Homo sapiens: one gene and its partners. The protein of the gene in region 2 interacts with the protein of the main gene of each other region in a biochemical or structural test. Each region holds a gene or a part of one and is shown on either strand. Other genes may lie near its edges.

Evidence for each region.
Region 1: the proteins of CTSD (region 2) and SPRED2 form a complex in vitro, tested with the Homo sapiens proteins (one study listed by BioGRID).
Region 3: of the proteins of CTSD (region 2) and MAPT, one has a biochemical effect on the other in vitro, tested with the Homo sapiens proteins (one study listed by BioGRID).

What each region holds. Positions count from the first base shown.
Region 1 is NC_000002.12:65,331,550-65,335,197, forward strand, and holds part of SPRED2 (sprouty-related, EVH1 domain-containing protein 2), read right to left. Parts: intron 3,225-3,648; coding exon 3,056-3,224; intron 3,039-3,055; exon of another isoform or gene 2,570-3,038; coding exon of another isoform or gene 2,566-2,569; intron 503-2,565; coding exon 438-502; intron 1-437. UniProt on the Homo sapiens protein: Negatively regulates Ras signaling pathways and downstream activation of MAP kinases. Recruits and translocates NF1 to the cell membrane, thereby enabling NF1-dependent hydrolysis of active GTP-bound Ras to inactive GDP-bound Ras.
Region 2 is NC_000011.10:1,753,928-1,757,575, forward strand, and holds part of CTSD (cathepsin D preproprotein), read right to left. Parts: intron 3,630-3,648; coding exon 3,397-3,629; intron 1,102-3,396; coding exon 979-1,101; intron 212-978; coding exon 67-211; intron 1-66. UniProt on the Homo sapiens protein: Acid protease active in intracellular protein breakdown. Plays a role in APP processing following cleavage and activation by ADAM30 which leads to APP degradation.
Region 3 is NC_000017.11:45,988,509-45,992,156, reverse strand, and holds part of MAPT (microtubule-associated protein tau), read right to left. Parts: intron 2,280-3,648; coding exon 2,082-2,279; intron 698-2,081; coding exon 571-697; intron 1-570. UniProt on the Homo sapiens protein: Promotes microtubule assembly and stability, and might be involved in the establishment and maintenance of neuronal polarity.

The DNA of each region.
Region 1 (3,648 bases), on a different chromosome or scaffold from region 2:
CTTTCCCCCCTGATGCCAGGGAGGGAAGCGTGTTCACAGAAGACTCCAAATAGGGCAAGCGATTGTCCTGGCTTGCCTGGGATTGAGGTGTTTCCCAGGACTAGGGACATTTTGTGCTAAAACCAGGACAGACTTGGGCAAACCAGGGCAGCTGGTCATCCTAAATCTGAGCAAAGACTTTAAGACAACCTTGGACAGACCTGGGAGAGCTGACACTGCTGTGCTGTGTGGCAGATGTGCAGTGTTGCTCACTGCAGCGTGAGCAACAGGGACAAACCCAGCCTGAGAAAAATTGTAGTAAGACAGAGATCGCTCTGATGCCATCCAAACAGCAACAGCAAACACTGCATTGCAAAGTGTGCCTCATGCCCTTAAACAAAACCTTTCTCTGATTATTCAACAACTAATCTGGAAAGCAAAGGACAAAGGAAACTTACTGTAAAAACGTCATCATCGCCAAGCTCAGCTTCATTATGGATGGTGGAAGATGACGTTGTTGAACCTAAAAAGACAAAAATGTAATAAAAAGTGTTTCCCAAGAGGATACATCAAATCCAACCGTTTAAAAAAGTATATTTTAATAAAACCACATTCCATTCTTTTTGCATGTGAATTACCAACAGAAACAAGTTACCTGGGAATTGAGTGCTTTTAATTTACTCTTCTTTAATTGATTCTTGCCAGGATGCTCCCTAAATTAACTTTGCCTGCTGTTGTTCCCAATTAATCTCTCAAACTTCTGCACTCGCTGCTAGAGAATAAGCACACAGAAAGGCACTGTGGAGGAGGTGAGGGGAGAGGCTGCCCACTCCTCTGAGGGACATGCATCGAGCCCAGCCTCTGTAGTGACCTTGAGGTCCCAGCCGTGTAGTGGGAAAAGCACTGGACGGGGAACCCCTAAGTGAGACCTGCCACAATCTACTGTGTAAACTGGATTTAGCTCCTCTGGTCTTTTCACCTACCAATGAAGGCATTTTAGCTCAATAGCTTGTATGGTTGTGTCCAGTTCTGAATTCAGATGTTGTATTTCTAAATCCCAAATTGTGGGCTCCCTTCTAAGGGGACACCTGTGCAAGGGGGTTTCCTCTTGCAATACCAAGGCATCAGTGAGTTTGCTTTGTTTTTCCAAGTCAAAATTACAGCTCTTGTTAGAAAACCCTCCTTATTCCATCATGGAACCAATTGGATTTTAGAGTTCAATGTAATTACTTGTTCACCTTTTTCTTCATTCTGGTATGCGAATCAGGTACAACTGCCCTACTTCCCCCCACCACCCTGAATAGCAGACAATAATGCATGGATCAACTTAATTGGCCAAAAGAAAGACATATTTAAAATTGCATCAGTGACAGATATACCAAAAGGGAAATTTATTCTCTATCTTTTCCTTTTCTTGGTTAGATCTTTTAAAATATGCATTTAGAAAATATTTTGCTGGCCAGACGCAGTGGCTCACGCCTGCAATCCGAGCACTTTGGGAGGCTGAGGCCGGCAGATCACGAGGTCAGGAGTTCAAGACCAGCCTGGCCAACATAGTGAAACCCTGTCTCTACTAAAAATACAAAAATTAGCTGGGTGTGATGGCGGGCGCCTGTAATCCTAGCTACTGGGGAGGCTGAGGCATGAGAATCGCTTGAACCTGGGAGACGGAGGTTGCAGTGAGCCGAGATGGCACCACTGCACTCCAGCCTGGGCTGGAGACTCCATCTCAAAAAAAAAAAAAAAAGAAAAAGAAAATATTTTGCTATTACATGAAATTGAAATGAAAACAATTGCTCAGAAAGGATGAGAAATACTTAAATTTCCAACGAGAGACTGCAGGAGAAAAAACAACAGTCCCATAGTATGTTCTGTGCAACTCCTACTGGTCTTTCGGGAGCTGTCTCTACTCTGAATTACTCCAATCAACCAATGTTCTAGGAAAACTGGTGGAAAAAAAAGCTAGATAGTATGTATATAGAGAAAAAAATTACAAGTAGGAGAATGAAATGTTGTGCAATTAAGTACATGGACACAATGCGAACGTCTATCAATAATATAGGAGCTGTTTTTTCTCTAAACATGAAAAAGCTGTGTTTAATAACATTTTAAATATTTGCCACTTATGTCAGAACTATGATTTGAACACTGGTTTTTATTATCTCTTTTTGGCTATCTCATACTTGTTTATGGATTCATGTTCTAGCTAGTCTTGTCTTACTACTGATTATAATGTTAAGTAATTTGTCTTTTAAGACTTGCTTTTTTTCCTCTTCCCCCAAATCCACAATGAAGAAAATGACTTCAGAACACTTTTATTTCTTAAGCAAATGAAACATACATCCTTTTGTGATTAATTTCCCCAAGATCTGAATTTGGTATTAACATGCCTTGCTTGATATTTCTTTCTTCACAGGGCCCTGTCTATGGCTTCTTTAACCCTCTGATTTGATACCTGGATGTGCTGCAGTGGAGAATTTTTGTGTTTGCATCTGTGGACTCTAGTCAAGCCCACCATGAGAACTGACTGCCCAAGGGCCCTCCAGGCCACGATCAGATGTAACACAATGCCTACTACTCACTTACCCATAGACCAAGGCCTAAACCGAACCAGGGCTCCAGAGGTCACAGATCCCTTTCCTTTTCAGTGGCAGCTGTACACCCTGGGCCTCTGATTACAGGAGGACAGTGGGTAGGCCAGGAGCCTTCTGGGCCCGCCAGAATCCATTCTCTACTTCTGAGCCAAGACAGACCAGACCAAAGCCATTTCAATAGTCAGGACAAGGTGAAAGCAGTCAAAAATACATGCACATGGAAATCCAGAACCTGCCTGTTTTTTCACAGCAGAGTCTAAAAATCAATTGGGATTACTCCTTACTCTGAAACCCATCTCCTTTTCCCTGAATTGTCACTTTAATTACTCTCCTTGGAAATTCCAAAAGTTTTGGCATCTACTGACCTGGTCCCAAACCCTCCCGCAAATAAACCACAAATAAATGATGGCAGACTATTGGAATTAAAAATAATTTGGAACATTTCCATAGTCCCACTAAGAATGCAGCGACAAGTTCAATACCTTCTATAAGGTCTTCGATTGCTTTCCTTACTCCCCTGTCAAAGGCTCGGGCATCAGCAGGGCTTTGGAAAGTAAGTCCAAACTTCCTATTATCGACCTTCCAGTGATGAAACGTTGGATTGGCTTTGGTGTAGACCAAGTCCTTTCTTACATAGCATTCCAATACCACCTGAAGGATGGAAACACACAGGCTGGTTACTAGTGGAACAGCCATGATGATGTCTGGTTACAGAAGTCTAATTAGGAACCATCACTGGTGGCAACTACCAAAACCCCTCTAACCCCTGCCTTCACATATCTGTGAGTCTCTCCAATGGGAAAGGAGGCTTTGCTTGGCTGCTGACCATCCGATCTTCGCTGCTCCCCACTGTCCTGGTTGTACCCCTTCACTACACTCTCTTCATCACGGTTATTCCTCTTCCTCCTGGCTGCAGGGCACTAAGTTGATGCTCAGGTCTTGGGTCTTGGCTGTATTTCAGATTACTGCTTTTATGTTGGGGTTTTTATATTGATGGTCATCTAGCTTCCCTCCCCCGAGGCTCCAAATTCCAAAAGTTGAAAAATTAACTTTACTCTAAAATTTCTCCTCTCCC
Region 2 (3,648 bases):
GTGGTAGTGGTGGCCTTGGGGCTCCCCCTGCCAGCCCCAGCCCCAGCCCCAGCCCCCGGCGCTCACCTCGCCCTGAATCAGCGGCACGGCCCCGATGGCCTTCTGCAGCTCGCGCACCTCATCCACCGGGCCCACCATGAGGGAAGTGCCTGTGTCCACAATGGCCTCACAGCCCTCCTTGCACAGGGTCAGCCCGCTGGCCACCTCCACCCTGCGGGGAGTCAGGGCGTGAAGCCCCTGCCGGGACTGGAGTGTGCCCTGGGGGCCCAGTGCCCCTCCCTGGGAGCCCCTCCCCTGGCTGGGCTGCACTCTCCTCCCCTCAGGGCTCCTGGAAGCACAGCCGGCTGTAAGCCCTCCAGGGAAGAGGGTGGGAGAGGAGACACAGAGTGGTAGAGGGGGTGGGAGACCCTCAGGTGGTGGTGAGGGGCATGGAGGGATGGAGGGGATGGAGGGGCATAGAGGGATGGAGGGGATGGAGGGGATGAAGGGATGGAGGGGCATGGAGGGATGGAGGGATGGAGGGATAGACAGATGGAGGGGATGGAGGGTCATGGAGAGTCACAGAGGGATGTGGGGATGGAGGGATGGAGGGATGGAGGGGATGGAGGGATGGAGGGATGGAGGGGATGGAGGGATGGAGGAGATGGAGGGTCATGAAGAGTCACAGAGGGATGAGGGGATGGAGGGGATGGAGGGCATGGAGGGATGGACAGAAGGGATGGTGGGTCATGGAGAGTCACAGAGGCATGGAGGAAATGGAGGGATGGAGGGATAGAGGGAATAGAGGGGATGGAGGTGATGGGGAGCATGGAGGGGCAAGGAGGGGCATGGAGGGCTGGTCTGACCCCATCTCTTTCTTGCCCAGCTCCCACTACTCCCCACATGCAACCCCCACCTGCAGAACCGGGGTCCTCCAGGGTCTCCGCACACCGCCCCCGCCCACAGAACCCAGGGGAGCCGACTGCAGCCACTACTCACTGGTCCAGGTGGACCTGCCAGTAGGCCTTGCGGGTGACATTCAGGTAGGACAGAGAACCCTTGTAATACTTGGAGTCTGTGCCACCCAGCATCAGCTCACCCCCAGGCTGCGCATCTGGGTCCCTAGGAGGAAAAGGGAGGAGTCAGCTGCCACGCCACCCCCCAAGCACAAGAGTGCCAGGTCAGGAGTAAGAGGGTGAATGTGGCAATCAGGGAGAGCTTCCTGAAGGAGGGGCCTTTCTGAAACTGCAGGGATGGAAAGGCCCAGAAGGCAGGAGGAGGGACAGACTCCCTTCTTCCCGGGGTAGGGCTGCTCTGCGTGGGCCCAGCCTGGCCCAGAAGAGGTTTTCCTCAACCCTCAGGTTCTCCTGGTCTGCTCAGGAGCCAAGGTTCAGCCAGACATCAGGGTCAAGGCTAGCGGCAGACAAGGAAGTGAGTGCCAGGAGCTCCACTGGGGAGGACCCTGTCTGTCTGTCTGGAAGAAAAAACCAAAGAAGGCTTCCAGGAGGGAGTGATGGCACAATCTGGGAAGTTGGGATGGCTGGTTCTGGCCGCAGGGCCTCTGCACTGGCTGCTCCTGGGAACACCCTCCACCTGCATCCCCGAGCCACGTCCGCTCATCTCCCCCTCATCCAGACCACTGATGGCCAGCCAAGGTGCTCCTGGGCAGGAGCGCACTGCACTTCCTAGGACCTGCAACCCATGTCGCCCGGGTTTGTTTCTAAACATTGCTCAAGTACAGCTTTCAACGCAGCAAATCCTGCCGGTCCTGGTAGAGAAGCTCTCTGTGTCTGGGGCGGTTCTGCCATCCCGCCAGAGCGTCTGCAGCTAAGCTGGCCACCATCCCACTGCCTGTCACTCGAGGCAGTGCCAGGCCTGACCCAGTCCTCCCAACACCGATTGGGGCCTCCGCCCTCCTCCAGCCTCCTCCGCCTTTGCCTCTTGTCAACACCTCTGCAATCCCAAGTGTAGAAACCTGATCAGCGCCTCCCACCCCTCCTCTCCTCACCAAACATGCTTTCAGAAGCCCTCAGACCCTCCCTCCTGCCTGGCTCCACTTCCTGCCCAAGCTGCTGCCTTGAGACTACACCTGGGCACTCACAACCATGTGCACCTCCCCCACCTGGGCACTCACTCTGTGTGCCCCTCCTTCCACCTGGCACTCATGCCTGTGTATGCCTCCCCCGACCTGGGTACTCATACCGTGTGCCCCTCCCCCACATGGGCACTCATGCTGTGTGCCCCTCCCCCACATGGGCATTCATGCCTGTGTCCCCCTCCCTGACCTGGGTACTCAGGCTGTGTGCCCCCTCCCCATGTGGGCACTCATGCCTGCATGCCCTCTTGCCCTCAGGGGACCCCTTTTCACCTGGCTGCCTCCCCTGTGCCCCAAGGCTCCTGGGGAAATGGCCCAGCCGGTTCACCTGTGTCCTGGCCTCTAGTGAGCAGCTTAGCCCTGGGTGTTGCTAAGGAGTATTCACTGCCCAGGCAAGGGGCAGAGCAAAGAGGCCCAGCCAGCCCTACAGCCGGAATTCTGCCGGAAGCGATCCAAGGTTAGGGGTCAGGCCCAGAGACTCCAAGTGCCAAGTGAGCCACGTGAGGTAAACCTGCCCCTGTCAGCCCTGGAGAGTGTGGGGCAGTGACCAGGCGCAGCTCAGGGCAGGAGGCCGCCGGCTGACACGCTGCCCACCCCCAAAACAAAAGCCCCCAACCCCCAGTCACCCCTCTTATGTGGAACCCTCCACTCAGGTCTGCCCCGAGAAGAGGAAACTAACTGAGTCCGACGTCCCCTTCCCAAGGTCACCTGACCATGGGTCACCCAAGCTGGAGCAGCGGCTGCAGGTGGGGGCCCTGGGGGAGAACCCTTTTCCCAGAAGGAAGGGCCCCCTATGTTCCTCCTCGAGGGCAGCCGGCACCTGCTGGGGACGCCCACAGAGCTGCTCGCAGCGTGGTGCCGGGGACCCATACGCACCCAAGGTCACCTCCCCGGGGATCCCCGGTCCCCTGGGCACCATGACCCTCTCCACCATCAGCAACCCCGGGACCAGGACCACATGTGCCCATCACCAGGTCTGGGGACCGACGGGCCGACTGAACCAAGAGGAACTGCCACGACCCCTGACCTGGGTCCATTCTCATAGGAGGGAGGCCCAGCTGCCAAGGTCCCAGGACCCACAGCCTGGCCCGAGCCCCTCCCACTGGGAGACCCCGGCCAAACAGCTTTCTCTGTGCTGCCGCTTACTCCTCTGCAGAAGGGCGGCCAACCCCCGCCTCCCGGATGCCCTGAGGTCAGAGGTCAGGAGCTCTGGCACAGCAGCAGGGAGGGGGCAGCACTGAGAGGGGGTGCCTAGAAGGCTCCCCGTCCAGCCCCGCCCTGCCTCCCAGCAACGCGGAGCGAGAGGGAACCCACACGCCCACCTGCTCAGGTAGAAGGAGAAGATGTTCTGGTCCACCAGCTTCTGCTGCATCAGGTTGTCGAAGACGGGCAGCACGTTGTTGACGGAGATGCGGGGGTAGGCCATGCCCAGGATGCCATCGAACTTGGCTGCGATGAAGGTGATGCCTGGCTGCTTGGTGGCCTCCCCAAAGACCTGCCTCTCCACTTTGACACCGCCCAGGGCAGAGGCTGACGACGCTGACTGGCAGGGCACCTGCAGGCCAGGGCAGAGT
Region 3 (3,648 bases), on a different chromosome or scaffold from region 2:
TTTTCTGTATTTTTTTTTATCATGCTGCAGAATCAGCCTCAATTTCTTCATTGATAAAAAGTGAGGATTCAGGCTGGGAGTGGTGGCTCATGCCTGTAATCCCAGCACTTTGGGAGGCCGAGGCAGGTGGATCACCTGAGGTCAGGCGTTCGAGACCAGCCTGGCCAACATGGTGAAACCCTGTCTCTACTAAAAATACAAAAAATTAGCCGGGCATAGTGGCAGGTGCCTGTAATCCCAGCTACTAGGGAGGCTGAGGTAGGAGAATCGCTTGAACCTGGGAGGTGGAGGATGCAGTGAGCTGAGATCACACCACTGCACTCCGGCCTGGATAACAAAAGCGAAACTCTGTCTCAAAAGAAAAAAAAAAAAAAAGGTAGGGATTCAACATTTGCCTCAGAAATCAAAAGGACTGAGAAGGCAATGAAGACTCCAGTGCTTAGTAAACTGCAAGCTGCTGACCAGCTGCCAGGGGTTATTCATTCTCAGTGGCCTAAGGCCTCCTAAAATGAAGGCTGTACCTCTGAGAGCTTCAGCTTCCTCTAAGATTCAAGAGAACGTTCTTCTTACCAGAGCTGGGTGGTGTCTTTGGAGCGGGCGGGGTTTTTGCTGGAATCCTGGTGGCGTTGGCCTGGCCCTTCTGGCCTGGAGGGGCTGCTCCCCGCGGTGTGGCGATCTTCGTTTTACCATCAGCCCCCTGTAAATGAAACATGATAGAGGGGTTTTTCACCATTGGGAAAAGTTACTGCCACCAAGAGTCAACACCAGCCCCACTCCGCCACCTTGACTCAAAACGTGGCTAAGACTGGGGTGACCCTTTGCCTCCTAGATGCCACTAGTGTCTGCTACAACCACAAGGGCTTGCTGGGCACACAAACCCACATCCCCACCCAAACTCCAAGTTCCCTGAGGACATTTCCTCCCAGAGGAACTGTGTGCATTAGTTATCAGCATGAGTTGTGCCAAGGCCAGCAGAGCTCACAGCAATGATCAGGTCACTCTCCACTCCATGTCAATCATCGGCAGGACATTAGTGCACTACACATATGCAGACATCCATTTTCTGACTCTAATTATGGATTTATTTGGCTGATGGTGGTTGGCTCCACCAGAGGCCCCTGGGGGCAGTGTTGAACCTGACCAAGGATGCTAAAGAGAGCTAGGTCGTGTTCTTTCATTCTCTCGCAAACAACCCTAAGGCCTCAAGAACTCCTTGGGTGTGCTCAGACCAGGCGAGCACCCGAGGAGGCGAGCACCAGCATCACTGACAAAGCTGGCAGAGTCGGGCATGGCACAGTCTAGGGACTAGGGCAGTCCCTGGGTTCCGTTACCCAGCAGATGACCCTTAGACATAACACAAACTCAAAAAAGAAACTGACATTAACCAAGGACCACAAGCTAGTTGAGGGGGCAGTGAGCTCACGGGGCAGTGTTGCTATGGCGTGATGCTGTCCTACCCAGATCAGGGCAATCTGGAAGCATTTCTCTTGCCAAAATCAGGAATGGGCAAAGGAACCCAATGAGAGTAGCAATTTTGGGTTTGTTTTTTAAACAATTTTTGCGACAGGGTCTTGCTCTGTCGCCCAAGCTGGAGCTAACTACAACCTCTGCCTCTGGGGTTCAAGCAATCCTTGTGCCTCAGCCTCCCGAGTAGCTGCGATTACCACCACGCATACCACCACGCCCGGCTAATTTTTGTATTTTTAGTAGAGACAGGGTTTTGCCATGTTAGCCAGGCTGGTCTCGAACTCCTGATCTCAGGTGATCCACCCTCCTCGGCCTCCTAAAGAGCTGGGATTACAGGTGTGAGCCACCGTGCCCAGCCTTAGAGTAGCGATTTCGAAACCAAGGTCCCACCAGGTGTCTTAGGAGCTGCTGCTATGAGAGCCTGTGGGGTGCTGAGAGGGATGGCCCCCAGCTCTCTTTTCCCCTTTGCCCAGAATTCTAACTATTTTACACGGTGCTTCTATGCCAGAACTCATTTGAAGAAAGGTCTTTGAGGCTAAAAAACAAATAAACAAACCCCACATTTGCAAACCACAGCAGAGCAGCCTGGTTCTTTTCAAAGGTGGTTTCCTTACCTTGAGTTTCATCTCCTTTGCTCCAGAACTGCCAGTTCGGGAAGTGACAGAAGAGACGTATTTAGGAGAGGAAGGTGGCTCTGGGCACACAGCAGGGCTGGAGGGTTGGATCAGAGGGTCTGAGCTACCAGGAGTGGGGTGTTTGGGGCTAAGGCAAGGCCTATTTTTCAAGGTTTTAGCAGAGGAACGTGTGGATGTCTTAAACATAAACATAAATAAAATCAAAATAAAAGTCAGCACATGGAGGAGGGAAACAAACTGAAAAAAGGACAGTAACTAAAAATAAATAAGGCAGGTAATGGTTGAAAGCAGTGATCTCCAGGCTGTTTGAATCAGGTACCCTTAATATCCCTTCTGATCAGTAAGAACAGGAAAGTGACCGTCCTCCCCAATCACAGTTCTTTTTCTTTTTCTTTTTCTTTTTTGAGACGGAGTCTCGCTCTGTCGCCCAGGCTGGACTGCAGTGGTGCAATCTCGGCTCACTGCAAGCTCTGCCTCCTGGGTTCACGCCATTCTCCTGCCTCAGCCTCCCGAGTAGCTGGGACTACAGGCGCCCACCACCACGCCCGGCTCGTTTTTTTGTATTTTTAGTAGAGATGGGGTTTCACTGTGTTAGCCAGGATGGTCTCGATCTCCTGACCTCGTGATCCACCCGTCTCGGCCTCCCAAAGTGCTGGGATTACAGGCGTGAGCCACCGCGCCTGGCCCTGACAAAGCTTTTAGAAGAGGACATGAAAAAGGAATGGAAGTTCTAGTACGTTCTTTCTCCAGCCTGTTGGATGTTACTGTGCCCCTGAATTTGGAGACGACTGGTTTAAAGGTGCTTCACATGAGTAAGTTGATGGAGATCATCAAGGTACATGAATCTTAGGATGTTACTCAAGAAAATGTCCCCAAGTGTGTCACGGGGTCTGAAGGGCCTTACTTTCTACTCAATTCCAGGCAAGGTGCTTTTTTACCTGCCCATTAACCCATGGCCTCTTCCACCACACTGACAGACTCATATGGCTACAATCAGGAGTGTGCCCCCCCCAAGTTGGAAAGATTCTACCTGACTTAGGTTACACCCACCCCCACCACACATGTGCTTTCTGATTAAAGTCTCAAATCAAACTAATATTAACACTATCTGGTGAATCCTAATCTGGCCAATGTTAACTCTTTTGTTTGTTTGTTTGTTTGTTTGTTTTAGAGACAGGGTCTCCCTCTGTTGCCCTGGCTGGAGTGCAGTGGTGCCATCACGGCTCACTGCAGCCTCCACCCTTTGGGTTCAAGTGATCCTCCCACCTCTGCCTGGCCAATTAAATTTTTTTTTTGAGATGGGGTCTTGCTATGTTGCCCAGGCTGGTCTAGAACTCTTGGGCTGGGGACATCCTCCCACCTTAGCCTCCCAAAGTGCTGGGATTACAGGCATGAGCCACTGTGCCAAGCCTCCAATGTTATCTCTTTTTCTTTTTTTTTCAGTTTGTCAGTGTAAACAACACTGCTTACTTTTGAACCCATTCCACAAGAGGAAGCAGCCAGGGACGGGTGTCTGCACGCCTGTCCCTATGGAGGCGGGGCTGGG